Linked DNA regions of Homo sapiens. The protein of the gene in region 1 interacts with the protein of each later gene in a pairwise test. Each region holds a gene or a part of one and is shown in the gene's direction. Other genes may lie near its edges. The genes, in order: CELA3B and GLP1R.

Region 1 (3,153 bases):
CTCTCTTGTCAGGGAGGATAGAGAGACATGCCAGACAAGAGGCTGCCTGGTGGGGGACAGGTGATTACATGAATGAGAACGATGCAGTCTGATGAGAGCCGAGAGAGGGGAGTCCAGGCCCCAGACTTCATCTGGGGATGGGTGATCAGAGAGGACTAATAACACTCCTGATAACAGTAATAGCTAAACAAAAAAAAAAAAGAAAAAAAAAAAGAGTAATAGCTGGGCATGGAGTAGTCATGCCAGTAATCCCAGCACTTTGGGAAGCAGAGGCAGGTGGATCACAAGGTCAGGAGTTCAAGACCAGCCTGGCCAAGATGGTGAAACCCTGTCTCTACTAAAAATACAAAAATTAGCCGGGCATGGTGGTGGGTGCCTGTAATCCCAGCTGCTCGGGAGGCTGAGGCAGAGAACTGCTTGAACCTGGGAGACGGAGGTTGCAGTTAGTCGAGATCATACCACTGCACTGCAGCCTAGGTGACAGAGCGAGACTCCGTCTCAAAAAAAAAAAAAAAAAGAGTAATAGCTAGCTGGGTGCAGTGATGCCCACCTGTAGTCCCAGCTACTTGGGAGGCTGAGGCAGGAGGATCGGTTGAGCCCTGGAGTTCTGGGCCATAGTGCGCTATACCCATCTGGTTCTGCACCAAGTTTGGCATCCATGTGGTGACCTCCTGGGAGTGGGGACCACCAGGTGGCCTAAGGAGGGGTGAACTGTCCCAGGTCAGAAACAGAGCAGGTCAAAACTCACATGCTGAAAAGTAGTAGGATCACACCTGTGAATAGCCACTGTACTCCAGCCTGGGCAACACAGCAAGAGCCTCTCTCTTAAAAAAATGAAAATAAACTAAATAAAATAAAACAGTAGTGCTTGCTTTGGCAGCACATGTACTAAAATTGGAATGATATAGAGATTAGCACGGCCCCTGCGCAAGGATGACATGCAAAGTCATGAAGGCTTCCATTAAAAAAACATTTCTGGCCAAGTACAGTGGTTCATGCATGTAATCCCAGCACTCTGGGAGGCCGAGGCGTATGGATCACCTGAGGTCAGGAGTTCAAGACCAGCCTGGCCGACATGGTGAAACCCCATCTCTACTAAGAATACAAAAAATTAGCCGGGCGTATTGGTGCATGCCTGTGGTCCCAGCTACTCAGGAGGCTGAGGCAGGAGAACTGCTTGAATCTGGGAGGCGGAGGTTGCAGTGCGCCGAGATTACGCCACTGCACTCCAGCCTGGGTGACAGAGCAAGACTCCATCTCAAAAACAAAAACAAACAAACAAACAAAAAAACAGTGATGATTTATAGACCATTTAATCCCTTGGTTCCCTGACCCATGTTAAAAAAATATATATATAAGGCCAGGCACGGTGGCTCATGCCTGTAATCCCAGCAATTTGGTAGGCCGAGGCAGGCAGATCATAAGGTCAGGAGTTCGAGACCAGCCTGGCCAATATGGTGAAATCCTGTCTCTACAAAAATATAAAAAAATTGGCTGGGCGTGGTGCTGCATGGCTGTAATCTCAGCTACTTGGGAGGCTGAGGTAGAAGAATTGCTTGAACTCGGGAGGCAGAAGTTGCAGTGAGCCAAGATTGCACCACTGCCCTCCAGCCTGGGCGACAGAGCAAGACTCCATCTTAAAAAAAAAAAAAAAAAAAAGCCGGGCATGGTGGCTCATGCCTGTAATCCCACCACTTTGGGAGGCTGAGGTGGGCAGATCACAAGGTCAGGAGATTGAGACCATCCTGGCTAACAAGGTGAAACCCTGTCTCTACTAAAAATACAAAAATTAGCCAGGCATGGTGGCGTACGCCTGTAGTCCCAGCTACTTGGGAGGCTGAGGCAGGAGAATGGCATGAACCCAAGAGGTGGAGGTTGCGGTGAGCTGAGATTGTGCCACTGCACTCCAGCCTGGGCAACAGAGTGAGACTCTGTCTCAAAAAGAAAAAAAACTCCAAAAATATATATTTTGTTTATATACATACATACATACATACATATATATACACACACAGACGTATATATATACACACACACACATATATATGTATATATATCTATGCACACATCCCATCTAAATTCATGCTGGCCATTGTAGAGAGAACCTTAGTTAACAATTTAATCAAGAACCCCCCCATGAGGTAAGTTCTATCATTATCCCTACTACATAGAGGAGGAAACTGAGGCTCAGAGAGGTCAATTCCTCTCCCAGGGTCACACAGCAGGGCTGGAAGTTGAACCCAGTTTCATCTGACTCCAGAACCTGTGCTCCTAAATTGACTATTCTGTCTGCCCCCCCAACTTTTCCAGACCATAGCAAGCCACTAGAACCAAGGCCCAGCTGGCAGTGCTGATCGATCCCACATCCTGAATAAAGAATAAAGATCTCTCAGAAAATTCCAAGTTGAATCTTTCTTTCTTTGTTGACTCACCTCTTCCCCTCTGGCCTGTTCCTAAAATCTTAGATCTCATATGCAGAGACAGGACCAGGTCCAACCCTTTCATACGAAGATGAGGGAAAAATGATGCTGGGAGAGAAGGGAGTTGCTGTGCGGTGACCTGACCATCCTGGTTTGCCTGGAACTTCAGGAGTGAAGACACTGGACATTTAATGCTAAAACTGGGAAGGTACCAGGAAAAATGGGACAAGTTGGTCGCCTTAGTATATAGTCGCACATAAGTCAGTAGCTTTTCAATGCAGGCATATAAACATGGTAAAAATCTGCAGATAAACAGACCCTGCCAGCCCCTCAGCAGGCTCATGGTAGAGTGGGAAGGACAATGTGTGATCTGCTTCCACTGATGGGCTGGGGGCTTTGGTTATTCATTCATTCAACAAACACTTATTCCTTGTTTTAAAGGAGGGCTCAGAGGGGTAAGGAGACATGGTTCCTGCCCTGAAGTGACTCATTATTTAAAGATAGCTCTCTTAGTCTGTGTTCATACTGCTATAAAGAACTGCCCGAGACTGGGTAGTTTATAAAGGAAAGAAGTGTAATTGACTCACAGTTCAGCATGGCTGGGGAGGCCTCAGGAAACTTAAAATCATGGTGGAAGATGAAGGGGAAGCAAGGGACCTTCTTTACAAGGTGGCAGGAAGGAAAATTGCCTAGCAAAGGGGGAAGAGCCCCTTATAAAACCATCAGATCTGGC
Region 2 (3,820 bases), on another chromosome or scaffold:
CTCAGGGAGGTGTGTGATAAGCCAGCTAGAACCCGAGACTGGATCCAGCATGTGCCCAGCACGCTACAAGGCAAGGGGGCAAGCTTCTAAAAAGAAGCTATTTTAATTTCAGCACACGTGGACATTTTTGTGATTTCAAAAAGCAAAATGTTGTTTTAAATTATGTATGGGTCCTACATTTTATACATGGGGCTCTTGGGTCATTTCAGCATCTGCAGCCTCTGAAGGACGAATATTTATAATTTTTAAGGCTGTTCAGGAAAAAACTAAAAAGAACGACAACCCCAAGACATAGCTGAAGGAAGTGCACAAAAACACTCAGAAGGAATGGTGGATTCTCAGTGGGATGGGTCTGTTTGGGTCTGTGTGCTGAAAAGCCATTTCGGTGACCTCACTGGAAGTGGAGGCTCAGCTCTCCCTACTCACAGGTGAGAGGGATCCCTCCCATTGCACGTGTGACTTCAGTGTTCTGGAACCTCCCTGACCCCTTCACCTCATGTCCTCAGGACTCTTCCTTTGGGTGGATAGAAGCTGGGTTGAATATTAGATTTGGTTGCTGTGTCAGAGGGGAGCACGGGGAGGGGGTGGGGGGTGCTGTGTTGAGTGCATCTGTAAGTGAGTGCGTTTTGGAGGAGGAATGCTAATGGCAGACATCCCAGCTCTTTGTAGCCCTGAACGCCACTACTCTCCCCGGCCCCCGCACACCTTGCGATATTCTACCATGGTCACTGATCTGAAGGACTCCAGATTCTAGCCTTAACTCTGCTTCCTGGGGGGGCTGTGCACCCTTGATTCAGTTCCTCTCCCACTCTGGCCTGTGTGTCTTCTTCTAGAATGGTTGAAAGTGCAAGAAGCCCTCAGGCAGGCTGACTAGGCGCCAGAAGGAGCTTAGAGTCCTGGGCCCTCAGAAAGTCTCTCTCCTAAGTGAGATCAGAGATCACAAATGAGACACACACGCTCCTTTCCTCCTTCACCCACCCACCTCCCCAAAAGCATCAATTTAGCAGACATTTGCTGGGTGCTCGTGACACATCAAGCTATGCACCCTGGGAGGAATGAAGATGTCAAACCATCCACCTGGGGCCCCTGGGTGGCAGTGACTTATTCTCACTCTCTTTCAGAGGTGGCTGATGCCTGGCAGAATTTGGGGCTTTGAGGTTTCATGGAGATTGAGAAACCAAGTGTGTTAGGGGGTGAGGGGGCAGGAGAGGGGCTGGCTGAACCCACAGGCCTCCCATATATGCCCTCCCCCCAGGGTGCCACTGTGTCCCTCTGGGAGACGGTGCAGAAATGGCGAGAATACCGACGCCAGTGCCAGCGCTCCCTGACTGAGGATCCACCTCCTGCCACAGGTGAGTCCATGTAGGCTCCCCACCTTTAGTGCTCCCCACCCAACCAACTTCTGGAGGACTTTGATGAACTCAATGTCCATGGCTGGGAGCCATTTGCCTCTATAGGATGCCACCCCTGCCCTCTGCCTTCATCTCATTGTCCAAGCTACTCCTTCACCTGGATACCTTCCTTTCTGCCGACCAAAATCTTCCTTTTCTTCAAAGTCCGCGGAAGCACTGCCTCCTCCAGAAAATCTTCCCCAGGACTTCTGCCATCATTTGGCCCTTACTCGTTTGCTGTAGTCTGCTTTGGGGTTGCTGTCTTATTTCTGTCTTAGCTGTCTTATCTGTGTGTCCTTCCCTGCACCGCCGGCCAGCCCCCCAGCTAGAGCCTCTCAGAGCAGGCACCCGGCCTTTCCATTTTTGTCCTCAGCACCTCCCAGCCTGTGCATGGACTGAGGGCTCCACAAACATATTTATAGGAATAAATGTTTCAGGGAGTTCACAAGGTGGTTTAAAGAGCACGGGATTGGAGCCCGCTGGGCCTAGGTTGAAATCCTGACTGTAATTATAACACGTGACCTAAAGAAGGTTATCTTAAGTGAGATCAGAAGGAAGGTAAGCTAACATTTCCCTCTAATCTGTGAAGTGCAATTTAAGAATAGGCCCATAGGGATTTTTCATTGAGCACGTACTATGTTCCATTATCTATGTAGCATATAGTCTTGATCCCACAAAACCCTATGGGGCTGGAAATACTCCTGTTTTACAGATCAGGAAACAGACATTAAGTTACTTGCTCAAGGTCCTGCCACTGATAAGTGGCAAGTGCCCCTGCTTGGCTCTTGCTGGGTGGGGAAAGTGCTTGGCATACAGTAAGCATTCAGCAGAGGTTAGTGGCATGCAGCCTCCGAGGAGGGGAGGGGTCTTGGGGAAGGGAGGGAAAGGGCCATGGCCAGTCACAAGCAGGGACTCAGAGACTGTTCTTTCTGCTCCCAGACTTGTTCTGCAACCGGACCTTCGATGAATACGCCTGCTGGCCAGATGGGGAGCCAGGCTCGTTCGTGAATGTCAGCTGCCCCTGGTACCTGCCCTGGGCCAGCAGTGGTGAGCCCCCTCCCCGACCTGGTACCTGCCCTGGGCCAGCAGTGGTGAACCCCCTCCCCGACCTGGTATCTGCCCTGGGCCAGCAGTGGTGAGCCCCCTCCCCGACCTGATACCTGCCCTGGGCCAGCAGTGGTGAGCCCCCTCCCTGACCTGGTACCTGCCCTGGGCCAGCAGTGGTGAGCCCCCTCCCTAACCTGGTACCTGCCGTGGGTCAGCAGTGGTGAGCCCCCTCCCTAACCTGGTACCTGCCGTGGGTCAGCAGTGGTGAGCCCCCTCCCTGACCTGGTACCTGCCCTGGGTCAGCAGTGGTGAGCTCCCTCCCCCACCGTCCCCTGTATCGAGGAGGCTGAGGTCAAGGCGCTGCTTCCTTTCCTCTGAGACACAGCCCTCCCCACCCAGAATGTCTTTAGGCCTCCTAGTGAGTGGTCCGCCTGCCTTTCCTGGGGTGAGGGGAGCAGTCAGTAGTGATAAGTTTCATGATGGCCTGAGGTACCACCTGGGTCTGGGCGTGAGGCCAGTGCTGGCCAGTGTGTGGGGAAGGGAAAGTAAGTGTCTGAAGAGAAATGCGACCCCTTCCAATTCAGTAGTCAGGAAAAGAGCTGGGTGGGGACAGACTCTTGCGGGGAGGGAAGCTACCCAGGGTGTCTGCTGTGTGTATACATGTATGTATGATATGTGTATGCAGGTGGCCCATACCTGGCAGTGACATTTAGCTACTTCCTCACTCTTTAGAGGTTCACTGGGAGAAGTGATCAGGGCATTGGTGGGGTGACGAACCCCACCAGACTCAGCCCTCCTCAGCTCACTCCTGCCTGCAAGGGGGACCTTGTACTGGGGAAGATGTGACTGGGTAGGTGGGAAGGTCATTTCATTGGGGGTACAGAGATTTGCAGAGGCTGCAAGAGGATCCCTGACTGGAGGGTTAGTTAATGTGCCCCGCTATCTATCCCAGCCTCCCTTGCTGAGCCCAGTTTCACCCAGGCACCGTGGAGGATAACAGGAGACAAGCACCCTCATGGCAAGGAGCTCCCAGTCTCCATAAGGGGAGAAAAGATATTTCCCTATCATCATCATCATCATCATCATCATCACCATCACCATCATCATCGTCATCATAGCCAGCATTTATTGAGTACCTACTGTGTGCCAAGTCCTGCCCTAAAAGCAGGGCTTTATAACTACCCTGTGGTTATACCTGCTGTACAGATGAGGAAACTGAAGCACAAAAAGTTTAAGTCACTTGTTCCAAATGATGTGGTCAATGGCAGAGCCAGGATTTGAATCCAATTCGTGCTCCTATCATCACACCTTGAAGGGGCTGGAGCCCAAGCAGCAACTGGCCCAGAAACAAGTGCGGGCATGAGGTTATGCTCTGGGGAAGC

Evidence for each region.
Region 2: the proteins of CELA3B (region 1) and GLP1R interact in a protein complementation assay, tested with the Homo sapiens proteins (one study listed by BioGRID).

The regions. Positions count from the first base shown.
Region 1 is NC_000001.11:21,986,952-21,990,104, forward strand, and holds the end of CELA3B (chymotrypsin-like elastase family member 3B preproprotein), read left to right. Parts: intron 1-2,310; coding exon 2,311-2,328; 3' UTR 2,329-2,403; downstream 2,404-3,153. UniProt on the Homo sapiens protein: Efficient protease with alanine specificity but only little elastolytic activity.
Region 2 is NC_000006.12:39,055,142-39,058,961, forward strand, and holds part of GLP1R (glucagon-like peptide 1 receptor precursor), read left to right. Parts: intron 1-1,255; coding exon 1,256-1,352; intron 1,353-2,330; coding exon 2,331-2,438; intron 2,439-3,820.